Regions from separate parts of the Homo sapiens genome. Here region 2 is linked to region 1. Evidence: fine-mapped expression QTL. Tissue or cell type: whole blood. Region 1 holds a variant in brackets; the other region holds the start of a gene. All regions are shown on one strand. Distances are from middle to middle.

Evidence for each region. PIP is the estimated chance that this variant, and not a neighbour inherited with it, causes the effect.
Region 2: ANKRD44-AS1 starts here. The variant in region 1 is fine-mapped to the expression of ANKRD44-AS1 in whole blood (INTERVAL, PIP above 0.99).

What each region holds. Positions count from the first base shown.
Region 1 is chr2:197,310,174-197,315,550 of GRCh38, reverse strand. It overlaps ANKRD44 (ankyrin repeat domain 44), which reads left to right and starts at 4,771. Exons shown (of 28, transcript NM_001195144.2): 1 at 4,771-4,973. The coding sequence starts at 4,947. It overlaps ANKRD44-DT (ANKRD44 divergent transcript), which reads right to left and starts at 4,485. Exons shown (of 4, transcript XR_923750.3): 1 at 2,853-4,485; 2 at 1,234-1,362; 3 at 1,067-1,082. RefSeq lists silencers at 4,456-4,535, 4,546-4,865, 4,916-5,295. The variant T/C (reference allele first, on the strand shown) is at 2,301.
Region 2 is chr2:197,195,005-197,200,381 of GRCh38, reverse strand. It overlaps ANKRD44-AS1 (ANKRD44 antisense RNA 1), which reads right to left and starts at 2,391. Exons shown (of 2, transcript NR_135584.1): 1 at 2,293-2,391; 2 at 1,109-1,464. The region is part of intron 1 of ANKRD44 (ankyrin repeat domain 44); the gene reads left to right. RefSeq lists an enhancer at 1,276-1,345.

The DNA.
Region 1 (5,377 bases):
AGCTTGCAGTCACTTGATTGTCTCATGGCCAGTCATTCAAATTCACTTAGCAAGCTAGGGACCATTCCTCAAATAGAAAATTGTTATCTGCAGAAGAGGGCATGACTTGCTCTACAACTAAGGAATTCTGCATTGTAGATCTAATCAGGGCTCACCAGAGGCTCTATATAGCATCCTTATTTGCCACAGACACTTTAAGTATCATTGGATTCCTCTGGGTCATCAAGTCCTGCTACAGATATTTCTTCTCCCCTTATTCCTAATAAAAAATTCCAGCCTTATGGGTTGCTCTATAAATGGGTCACAGCATCACACTCAGATGTGATACATATTGCCTCTAAAATCCAAGGATACCCAGAAAGTATTGTGTCTCTTTTCTTAGTGGTAGATGGTACAAGGTGAAGTAATTTGTCTTTTACGTTGGGGAGAATATCCTGGTGTTTTCTAGACCACTGGACCTCCAGAAACTTCACTAAGGTGATGAATTTTCTTGGGGTTTATACCCAATCTCTGGCTCACATGTGTGTTGTTAAGGCAGCTAAAATATTTGTTACTTCCTGTTTATCAGGGCCAGTCAGCTCGATGTCTTTAACATAGTGATCAAGACCTGTGCAGATGAGATTATGCCAGAGAGTGGGAGTGTTTACATCCCCTAGAGAAGACTGTAAAGGTGTACTGTTGATCTTGCCATATAAAAGAAAACAACTTTTGGTGAAAATTGAAATAGATAAAAAGCATTTGCCATATCAATAGTGCACACCAGGTGCCTAGGGCTGAGTTGCTTTGTTGCGGTAAAGACAGCATATATAGAATAGCAGCTGCAACTGACATTACCATTTGATTAAGTTTACAACTTAATAACAAATCATAGTTATTCTCTAAGATCTTTTGCATAGGCCCAACAGGTGAGTTAAATGGAGATGTGACAGTATTATCATTCCTGTATCTTCTACGTCTTTTCTGGTGGTACCAATTTCTACATATTTCCAGGGATTGAGCATTGTTGTTGGTTTTCTATTCTGGTATCAAGAGGAAATTCCAGAGGCTTCCATTTGGCCTGTCTTACCATAATAAACTTCACTCTGTGGGTCAGAGAAATGATGTTAGGATTCTGTTAGTTACTGAGTATGTCTATTCTAACTAACAGTTGAGGAGATAACTATAGTTTGGGTCTGCAGAGCTACTGGATCCACACTGATTTATACTTAGTTAAAAATTTCATTTATCACCTACCATAGATCCCCATTTTGATTGGTGGATCCAGTGGTGTTTGCAATCCTCAGGAATTAGCATTAATTCAGAAGCAGTGTCAGTGATCCCTCAAATGTCTGGGTATTTCCTTTTTCCCAGTACTCGCTCAGCCTAGAAAAATACATCAGGTTCCTTTGGATAAGGCTTGGATGAGGATTTGTAGTATATATTTATGACAATGCTGCAAGACCCTCCTGAAGGGGACCAGCTTCCCTTTTAATCAAGGAGCTCTGTGTCTGTGAACTCATTTAGGTACGGAAACTGAATGAAAGATAATTTCATTTTGATGGCTCAAGGGAGCTTTCAGGTGGCAGATGTAGAGTTTTGTCTGTTATAAAGATCAATGGCTATTTCCAAAGTCTGCCCGTCTATTTCATTCCTAGGACAACCTAGGGCACTGCCAGATATACCTGTAGGTTAAGACCTTTAAGTACTACTTTGTCTCTGCTGTCCATTACAGTAAATGTGTCCACCTTGTCTCTGCCAGCTAAGTGCTGCCACTTGGCCATTGCTGTCGCAGGATCCCACTAATATAAAAATCAAGGAGCCATCTCAACGAAAGCATCTCCCACCATCATATCCAGCTACTAGAGAGTTTTTCTGACGTTCTCTCTCGAATGTATTTTTCTTTCCTTTTCTTTTTTTTTCTTTTTGACAGAGTCTTGCTTTGTTGCCCAGGCTGGAGTGCAATGGCGCGTCATTGGCTCAGTGCAACCTCTGCCTCCTGGGTTCAAGCGACTCTCGTGACTCAGCCTCCCAAGTAGCTGGAACTACAGGTGCATGCCACCACGCCTGGCTAATTTTTTGTATTTTTAGTAGAGACGGGGTTTCACCATGTTAGCCAGGCTGGTCTGGAACTCCTGACCTCAGGTGATCCACCTGCTTCAGCCTCCCAAAGTGCTGGGATTATAGGCATAAGCCATGGTGCCTGGCCTGTATTTTTCAATGCTTCAGTATAAAGATCATCATCTGGCTCTCCAGGAATATGTAGGGGTTGGCTGTACAGATTATACATGATAAAATTATTCCAACATTCCCATCTCCACAAA[T/C]CTTTGGATTTCTTTCTCTACATTATACCAGGGGCATTCTGGCTTCTCAAGCTCACCGAATATAGTCAACTGCTGAGTCTGAGTCTCATTTAATGAAGTAAACAAAGTGTTTGAATCACTGTCAAAGTACTGGCTAACACATTAAAAGCAGACCTTCTGATAAGTGTAGTCTTATCAATAAATTTTGCCAAATCTTCTGCTCCCTATTTTATTTGGAACTTGGCCACGAGTTGTTCAACCTTTCACAAAGTCAGGTCACCTATGACAACACCAATCTTGATATTTGAATTCCTAACACTATATGTTCACATCTGTCTGCATTTGTAATTCTCTCATTCACAAAGCCTCTCCATATAGGTGGAAGCATCTTACTGCTTTGTTTTGTCAGAAGACAAAGAGAGTTGTGTTTTACCACTTACCTACTGAAATACATATTCATTATAAATTACTCTCCTTTAATTTTTCCTTTATTGTACAATTAGGACAATATATTGTTGCTGGTTTTTTTTTTTTTGAAATTTGTATTGGTAGGTAATATTATCCACAAATTACCTTTCAGGATAGTAAGGGGAGTGTTAAAGATACTAGTTACAAAAAGAGGATGATGGTCTGATTGGGTGGAGAACTGCTGCCTCCTCACTTTGGCCCCAGGAACTTAGGTGCAGGCATGTCCGCGATGAATCAAATTGGATCTTGAGTGAATCTTCCAAATTAAGTCATTTGTTATCACTCTTCTGAAAGATGGCTCTATTTAAGTAGAGAATGCAGGGTCCTATTCAGTTTACTTACAAAGCCATGCAGGGTGTTCAGTAAATAGACATACCAATAACAGCAGTGAAGAACTGACTCATAGATGCAACATAAACAATCTGTTGTATGTCTGAGAAAGGCCTTAGAATTTTTTGTTTGTTTGTTTCCATGCAACATTGATAACAGAGGAGTGGAAGCCAGGAACAAAGTTCCTTGGTTCTTCTTGTCTGCATGATCTGAATTATAATCTATAAGACTAATAAAGGTAAATTTGAGATTTAGCTGCTTCGACAACCAGAGTGGCTGGATGGTAAATGTGAGGATATTAATGCTCCTTTCTCTCCTGTCTCATGTGGAATCTTTGGGGGAGGTTCTAAGAGTAGGGAGGAAGAATGGACATTTGGTTTGTGAATATACAGTAGAGGCAGATGTTTGGTCTTGACCAAAGAATTCTGTAGCTCTAGTTTGCTCTTCAAAGCTGTTCAATGCTGCCCTACAGGTTTGCTCTATGGCCTGCCAGGGGCACATGGGGCTGCCTGGGAGCACTTCCTCTCCACTTGCTTACTTAATTCTCCCTTCTCCAGATCTCAACTCCTGTCACTTTCTCAGGGAAGCCTGCCCTCACCCACCAGTCTGGTCTGATTCCTTTGTTGTGGGTTCACTTCAGAAGCATGTTTTCCCTTGAGATCCCTTATCTCAGTTTGTAATTACATTCATTAGCAGAGACTATGCGGTTTATGTTGGCATCTTCTGAGAGCAGGTTATCTTATTTATGCTCTCCGTTTATTCCCGTGCCTAGCCAGTGCCTGACAAGGTAGGGACTCAGTACATAGCTGTTCAATGAATAAGTGTTTGCTCCAAATTCCAGAACTATCAACAGCTACTATGCTTACGAATATGCCCGTTGTATCTGTAGCCCATGGTGTTTGACAGCTGTCTTCTATTTGTTGAAGAGCTTGGTAACTTGGGATTTTGTAGAGATCAGTAAGGACTGGTGGGAACACCCAAAAGACCCATCAACTCGGTGATTTAGGACTGCTTTGCTTCTCCAGGAACTCCACTCCACCCCCACCAGCAAAAACCAAACCCAGGGTGTTTGAATTTAACAATAGTATGTGTGTGTGCATATGTGTGTGTGTGTTTAGCTGGAAAGTGGCTGGAGAACAAGGTGGAAGGGCCAGAGCTTCTGTTCCCTCCACCCATAAATGTTTGGCAAACACCCTGTAAAGAATCACAATGTGTCCGCTGCCTCCTGGCATTAAACAAAGGGAGCATCATAATTGCGGTCCCTGGGATCTTCGGGGCGCTGCCACCACCTGATTCTGGGTTAGGGGAAGGGGGCGTAACCCCATCTCCCCGGTTAAAGTGGACGGCATGTGAGTGAGAGCCTTTCCTGCCCCCTCGGGGTGTGTCCCCGCGGGCTTCCCCACCCATATGTGTGAGACCCGTCAGGGAGGCCCGCGATCCGCCCAGGGCCCGGGGCCGGCCCGGCCGGGCGCCGCGTGCAGGTGCGGAAGGCAGGCGGCGGCCCGGTGCGGGCGCGGGGGCAGCGCCGGGGGCCGGGCTGCGCGGCTCGGCTGCGGGCGGCAGGAGGCAGCGTCGGCCCAGGCGGCGGGCGGCGAGCGAGCCAGCGCGCGGTGATGTCAGTGGCGGCCCGGCTGGCAGCAGCCGGTACTTCCTGTGGAAAGGCGGGCGGGCTCGGCTGCAAACCCCACTAGCCAGTGTCAGCCTCTCGGCGGGAGGAGGCGGCGGCGGAGGAGGAGCAGGGGGAGGGCTGTCAAATTCGGGAGCCAGATTTTTTCCCTTCTCCTGGCAATCCCTTCCGCTTCCCCGGCTCCCGGCGTGACATCTGCGGGCCGGGGACCTGCATGTGTGTGCGCGCGAAGGAGCGGAAGAATGGCAGTGCTCAAACTCACCGACCAGGTAGCGGGCGGCGGCGCCGGCGGGCGGGACGCGCGGGCGCGGGGCGGCGCGGAGCCCGGCGGGGGGATGGGGGCGCGGCTGGAGCGCGCCCGCGAGCTGTTTACTCGCGGCGAAGGGGAGGACTGTGTGCGGCCGCCGGTGCCTCCGAGAGCCCGCGGCGGCAGCTCCCCTCCGCCGCGCCGTCCCCGCCCTGGGCCGTCGGAACTGCGCGCCCGAGTCTGGGGCAGGGCCCGTGGGCGCTGGGCAGCCGGCGTGCGGGAGTGCGGCGGCCGCGGGCCCGGCGGGGCTGGGGAGGGGGCCGGGGGCTCGAGGTGCTCTCGGGACTCGCACCGCGCCGCGTTGCGTGGGCGCCGCCGGCCCGGGCCCCGGGGAGGAGGACGCTGCACGAAGAGGGAGAAAGGATC
Region 2 (5,377 bases), 120 kb after region 1:
TGTCATTCCAAAATACATTTTTTTCCTTCCTCCATCTAAACCATGTTCAGGCCTTGTTCAAGTCCTGCCTCCTCCAGAGACACCACTCTGGCTTCTTAGCCTTTCATGCTTCCCCTTTTCTGAATCAAGAAGGCTCCTAGAATATTATGGCTAAAGGCACCTCCAGATTACCTCTCCAATCTGTCATTGTGCAGAAGGACAACTTGGCATCCATTTGCATGAGGTCTGTAGAACATGGTTCAGTACTGTCTTACACAGTTTAAGTGTTTTGTGTGGGTTAGGCTTATTTCCCCAACTATATTTGGCAGTCTTTTAGGAAAGGACTATGTCACACATTTCTTTTGTATATTTCATAAAAATAGCATATTGTAGGTACTCAGAAAATGCTTTTGGCTCTGGTAGCACTTCTCTGTGCAATGTGGATAAGCACTGATAGAGGCTTGTTTGTTGTGGTACAAACTAGAAACAACCCAAATGCCCATTCGAAGGGGAATAATTGAATATGTTATGGCATATCCATACAATGGAATAGTATTATATATAGTTATTAAGAGAAATGATTTAATCCTGTAGCTATCGACCTGGGGGATGTCCTCAGTACATCATTATTTTTGCAAATTGTAAGAGAGGGAAATAAGCCAGGCATGGTGGTATGCATCTGTAATCCAGACTACTTGGATTACAGATACTTGGGTGGGAGGATCGCTTGAACCCAAGAATTTGAGACCACCCTGGACAATATAGCAAGACCCCCATCTCAAAAAAAGTGTGTGTGTGGGAAATAGTAAAATCCCATTTTCTGATAATAAATAACGATAATCTCATATATCTGTATCTGTACCTACCAACAAGAACACGGGCTGTTCACATTTGTGGTAGGAAAGGTTATTAAGTTTTTTCTTTATCTGTTTTTGTATTGTTGCAACAGGAAACCTACTAAGATTAAAATCCAGCAAACATAAGACAAAGATAAAATGCACAGGGGTTTTGATGCATTAGGTGTTTCCCATAGTACTTCCTATTTTTCAAACTTCGTGTGATTAAAAAAGTAAGTTTTATCCCTGACTAAATTTCAGTGTGGAAATAAAGAAATAAAGATAGCATGTACTTGGCTTAGGTATACTTGTTTTGTTCTTTCAGCTCGTTACGTAAAGATACATTTTTTTTTCTTTCTCATGACATGAAGATAAGCTTTCTTCTTACCAAAACCTAAACTGTGAAGGCAGCACCCAAGCCAAAAGCCTCGAGGCTCTGGTTTCTGTGGTGGGATGGGGAGAGAAGTAGGTTGCACAGATGTAGGATGCCAGCTGACTTCAGAACTTCCGGTCTCAGAGCTAACCAGGCTCGGCAAGCCACAAGAGAGAAGGAGCTTGCATAGGTGGAAGAGCAAAGAAAGCCAGTGCTGCAGAACTTCCGGTGCTCCTCCGCCGATGTCGGGCTGGCGCTGCTCCCGAGCCCTGTGTCCTGTGGAAGAAGTTGGTGAGAATCGTTTTGAATGTAGGCAGCCACTCCTGAGGAGGCTAGCCCTTGCTACATTAAAGGTGGAGCTAGATTTACATTTTATTTTATTTTATTTTATTTTTTATTTTTCGAGATGGAGTCTTGCTGTCGCCCAGGCTGGAGTGCAGTAGCACGATTTCAGCTCACTGCAACCTCCACCTCCCGGGCTCAAGCGATTCACCTGCTTCAGCCTCCCGAGTAGCTGGGATTACAGGGGCACGCCACCATGCCTGGCTAATTTTTTGTATTTTTAGTAGAGACGGGGTTTCACCATGTTGGCCAGGCTGGTCTCAAACTCCTGGCCTCAGGTGATCCACCTGCCTCGGCCTCCCAAAGTGCTGGGATTACAGACGTGAGCCACCATGCCCGGTCAAATTTACCTTTTAGATTCACATATTACCACCAGAAGAATGCTTCCTCTGACAACTGAGCGGTACTCCATCCCCAGAGCCCTTTGTGCAGACTATTATTGCAGTTTCCTAACTTGTTATGACACTCCAGCCTTTTCCTCCAGGTCATCATACAATCCATTTTTAGAGTGATTGTTCTAAAGCACAAATCTTAGGTCACTCCCCTGCTCAAAAACCACCCACTGCTCCCCCAGTTCCACAGAAGAGAGCTCAAATTTCTTAGCTTGGTATTCAAGACCTTCCATGATAGGATCCCTGTCTACTACTCAGCTTACCTCACTTCTCCCCTCCTCCAGCCAAATGAAACTGTTCCCTGTGTATGTTCAGGCTCCCTAGCTTCTGCTCACAGCCTTCTGAATATGAAGAAGGGAAAGTCCCTTACCATTCCATCCGTCTCTACCTGTTTAAATCCTCCCCAGTCTTCAATATTCATTTCAGAGGCTGCGTCTTTCAGGAGGCCAGGTACAATTTCTCTCCCTTCTCCATGCACTTCTCCTGCGGCCTGTGCCTTACATTCTAGCTGTGCGTATTTGTATACTTCCTGTTACACCTTGGTAACCTCATCAAGGGAGAGACTGACTCTGACATTCCAGTGTCTGAATTTCTTTCTTTCTTTTTCTTTTTCTGTGTTTCTTTCTTTCTTTTTTTTTTTTTTTTTTTTTGAGACAGGATTTCACTCTGTCACCCAGGCTGGAGTGCAATGGTGTGAGCATGGCTCACTGCAGCCTCAATTTCCTGGGCTCAGTTGGTTCTCCCACCTCAGCCTCCCGAGTCGCTGGGACTACAGGTGTGCGCCACCGTGCCCAGCTAATTTTTGCATTTTTAGTGGAGATGTGGTTTCACCATGTGTCTAGGCTGGTCTGGAACTCCTGGATTCAAGTGATCCGCCTGCCTTGGTCTCCCAAAGTGTTGGGATTACAAGCATGAGCTACTGCGCCCGGCCTCCAGTGTCTGAATTTCTTATGCTCAGTAAATGTCTTATGCTTAATACATCTTTGTTGAATTGAATGTGGTTATCTGAAATGTACCAAATTAAGTTTTAGAAAACATATCTTTTATCCCCTGTTGGAGGGGGTAGTGTGTAAAGAAATAAAGGAGCTACGCACTGGGTTGGTGTCTGTGAAAGGAAATATGATATGACTTCTTTTTTTTTGCAGAATTTCCCATTTTCCCATTTTATATTATCGAATGTTTTCCAGTCTCTTAGGCTCCTCTCTCTTCCTGCTGCCTTATCCTTTCCCTTTGACATCTGTCACTGGATGTCCTTACCATGATTTTGGATGGGGAAATGAGAAGATGCTTCCTGAAAGACTACACTGAGGGGATTCTCTAATAGATTTTCATTCCATGTGACTTTTTCTGGCTGGGGAGGGAGTAGGGGACCTTCCAGTCATCTCAGGCAGAAACTAATTCAGGTCCTGATCAACCCACTGCCTTAAATTTTAGAATGGTTGCTATAACAATTTTAGAATGGTTGCTATAACAAGATGCCTTAGGAAAAAAAAAATTGACAATGGCCAGAACAGGAAGGTGACTCCGTTTTACACATGTCCCTAGTCCCTCACCTGTGGAGAGGTGGTGAGAGTTTAACTGCTTGCTGTCTTTCCAAGAATGCACGTGGAATTCAAAGAAAAGAACAGTAGAAGGGAAGGAGAGGGTTTAAAGGAAAATTGTCATGGGCTTTGGAAAGACCTGATTGTGTAAAAATTGCTTGCTGGTGTTTGGAAAGAACCCAGGTGCTAACAGATTTTAGACAAACCCAATCTGGAGTTGCCTAAATCATGAATGATTTAATGTGACTGAGTTAATCCATATATCTTGTATACAGTAGTTCCAGCCTCCTCAAATGTAGCAGGAGATTGCCACCTTTCTGAGAGTACCTTTCATTTCTACATGCTGATTTTGTTGTTGTTTTTAAAGGACACTTGAATTGCTTTATTTAGCTTCCAATTTGTGAGATTCTCAAAAATTAAAATTACTCATGACCACAAGAAGATACTTCTGTAGTTATGGATCATTTTCTGCTATTTTTTATAAGGAATACTTTTTTATTGTTGTCTTTTTTATAAGTGATGCACATACCAGGTAGTAATAAAAAGTCATGTTTTCCAGTGCACCCTAAAACTGAACTGCTGTCTCTATTTGAACAGACAAATAAATTATACTGAATATACCTACAACCCTGAAAATCATCTTCTGGCCATTTTTCTTTTTTCCCCACAAAGATCACTAAAGTGGTTTATATTGATTAACATTATTAAATCCACCTCTCATGTTTGCAACTACATGAATTCAATATGCAGTAAGATACAGTTATACAAAGAATGTAACCCAAGCCAAGATGAGAAATAAAACCTCTATACCAATTTTTCAAAACAGGAAACTGTTGCAGAAGTATATATAGTTGTTCTTTTTGTTTCACTAAAATTACATGGATTTAAATGTTCTGTATGAACTAACCTCCTGGATCCATTGTCCTTTTTGCCCAAATTAGCTTTCTTTAAAAGTTAACTCCCCAACACAATTTAATTATCTTAGCTAAAGTTTAGGTTTGATCTCAAGCCATTTGAAACTAGACAGAGTGAAAAAATCTGTGGGTAGTTGGCAGCAGATCCTGATAGAAATATGGCACTTGGCAAAGGCTGTCTGCCTTGTTTTGATTTGCCTTTCTCTTTATGGATGTGGCCTATTTTTGAAATGTTATGATTTAAATTCAGCGATCAAGTGACAAGTCTGACAAAACAGAGCTTACATCCGCAGAGGTTCTGTGGGGGAAAAAATGGAAATGTTCCAGAACTAAAGGAAGTAACCTCAGTTTCACCTGGAAACATTAGTGTTTCGGAGGCAAGGGATTTGGGCTATATATAAAGAGTGAAGGAAAGTGGCCAAGATGCTGGGCCAAAATTGCATCCAGGAATAGAGCAGACATTAAAGAACCAAAAACTATATCTGTTGTTTTCACCGTATCCCTGTAAGTAGCACCTGGGGAGACTGTGATTAAAAAAAAGATGGGAAAGTTCTTTCCTGTGATGGCTTGGATTGTAGCAACAGCCTTCTAACTGGGCCTCTAACTCCAATCTCTCCTTCTCCAGTACTCAGTGTACACTTTGGCCAGATTAAATTCTTGGGAAAACTCTATTCCTTTCTCCTGCTCATGACCCCCATTCCTGTTTGTCCATAAGATTAGGTAAAGGCTGGGTACAGTGCTCATGACTGTAATCCCAGCTCTTTGGGAGGCTGAGGCAGAAGAATTGCTTGAGGCCAGGGGTTCAAGAGCAGCCTGGGCAACATAGCGAGACCCTGTCTCCACAAAAAAATATTAAAAATTCACCAGGTTTAACAGTGGCCTGTGCCCATAGTCTGAATTACTTGGGAGGCTGAGGTGGGAGCATCGCTTGAGCCCAAGAGTTTGAGGTGGTAATGAGCTATATGATTGCACCAAAAAGATTAGGTTAAAGCTTCTTATG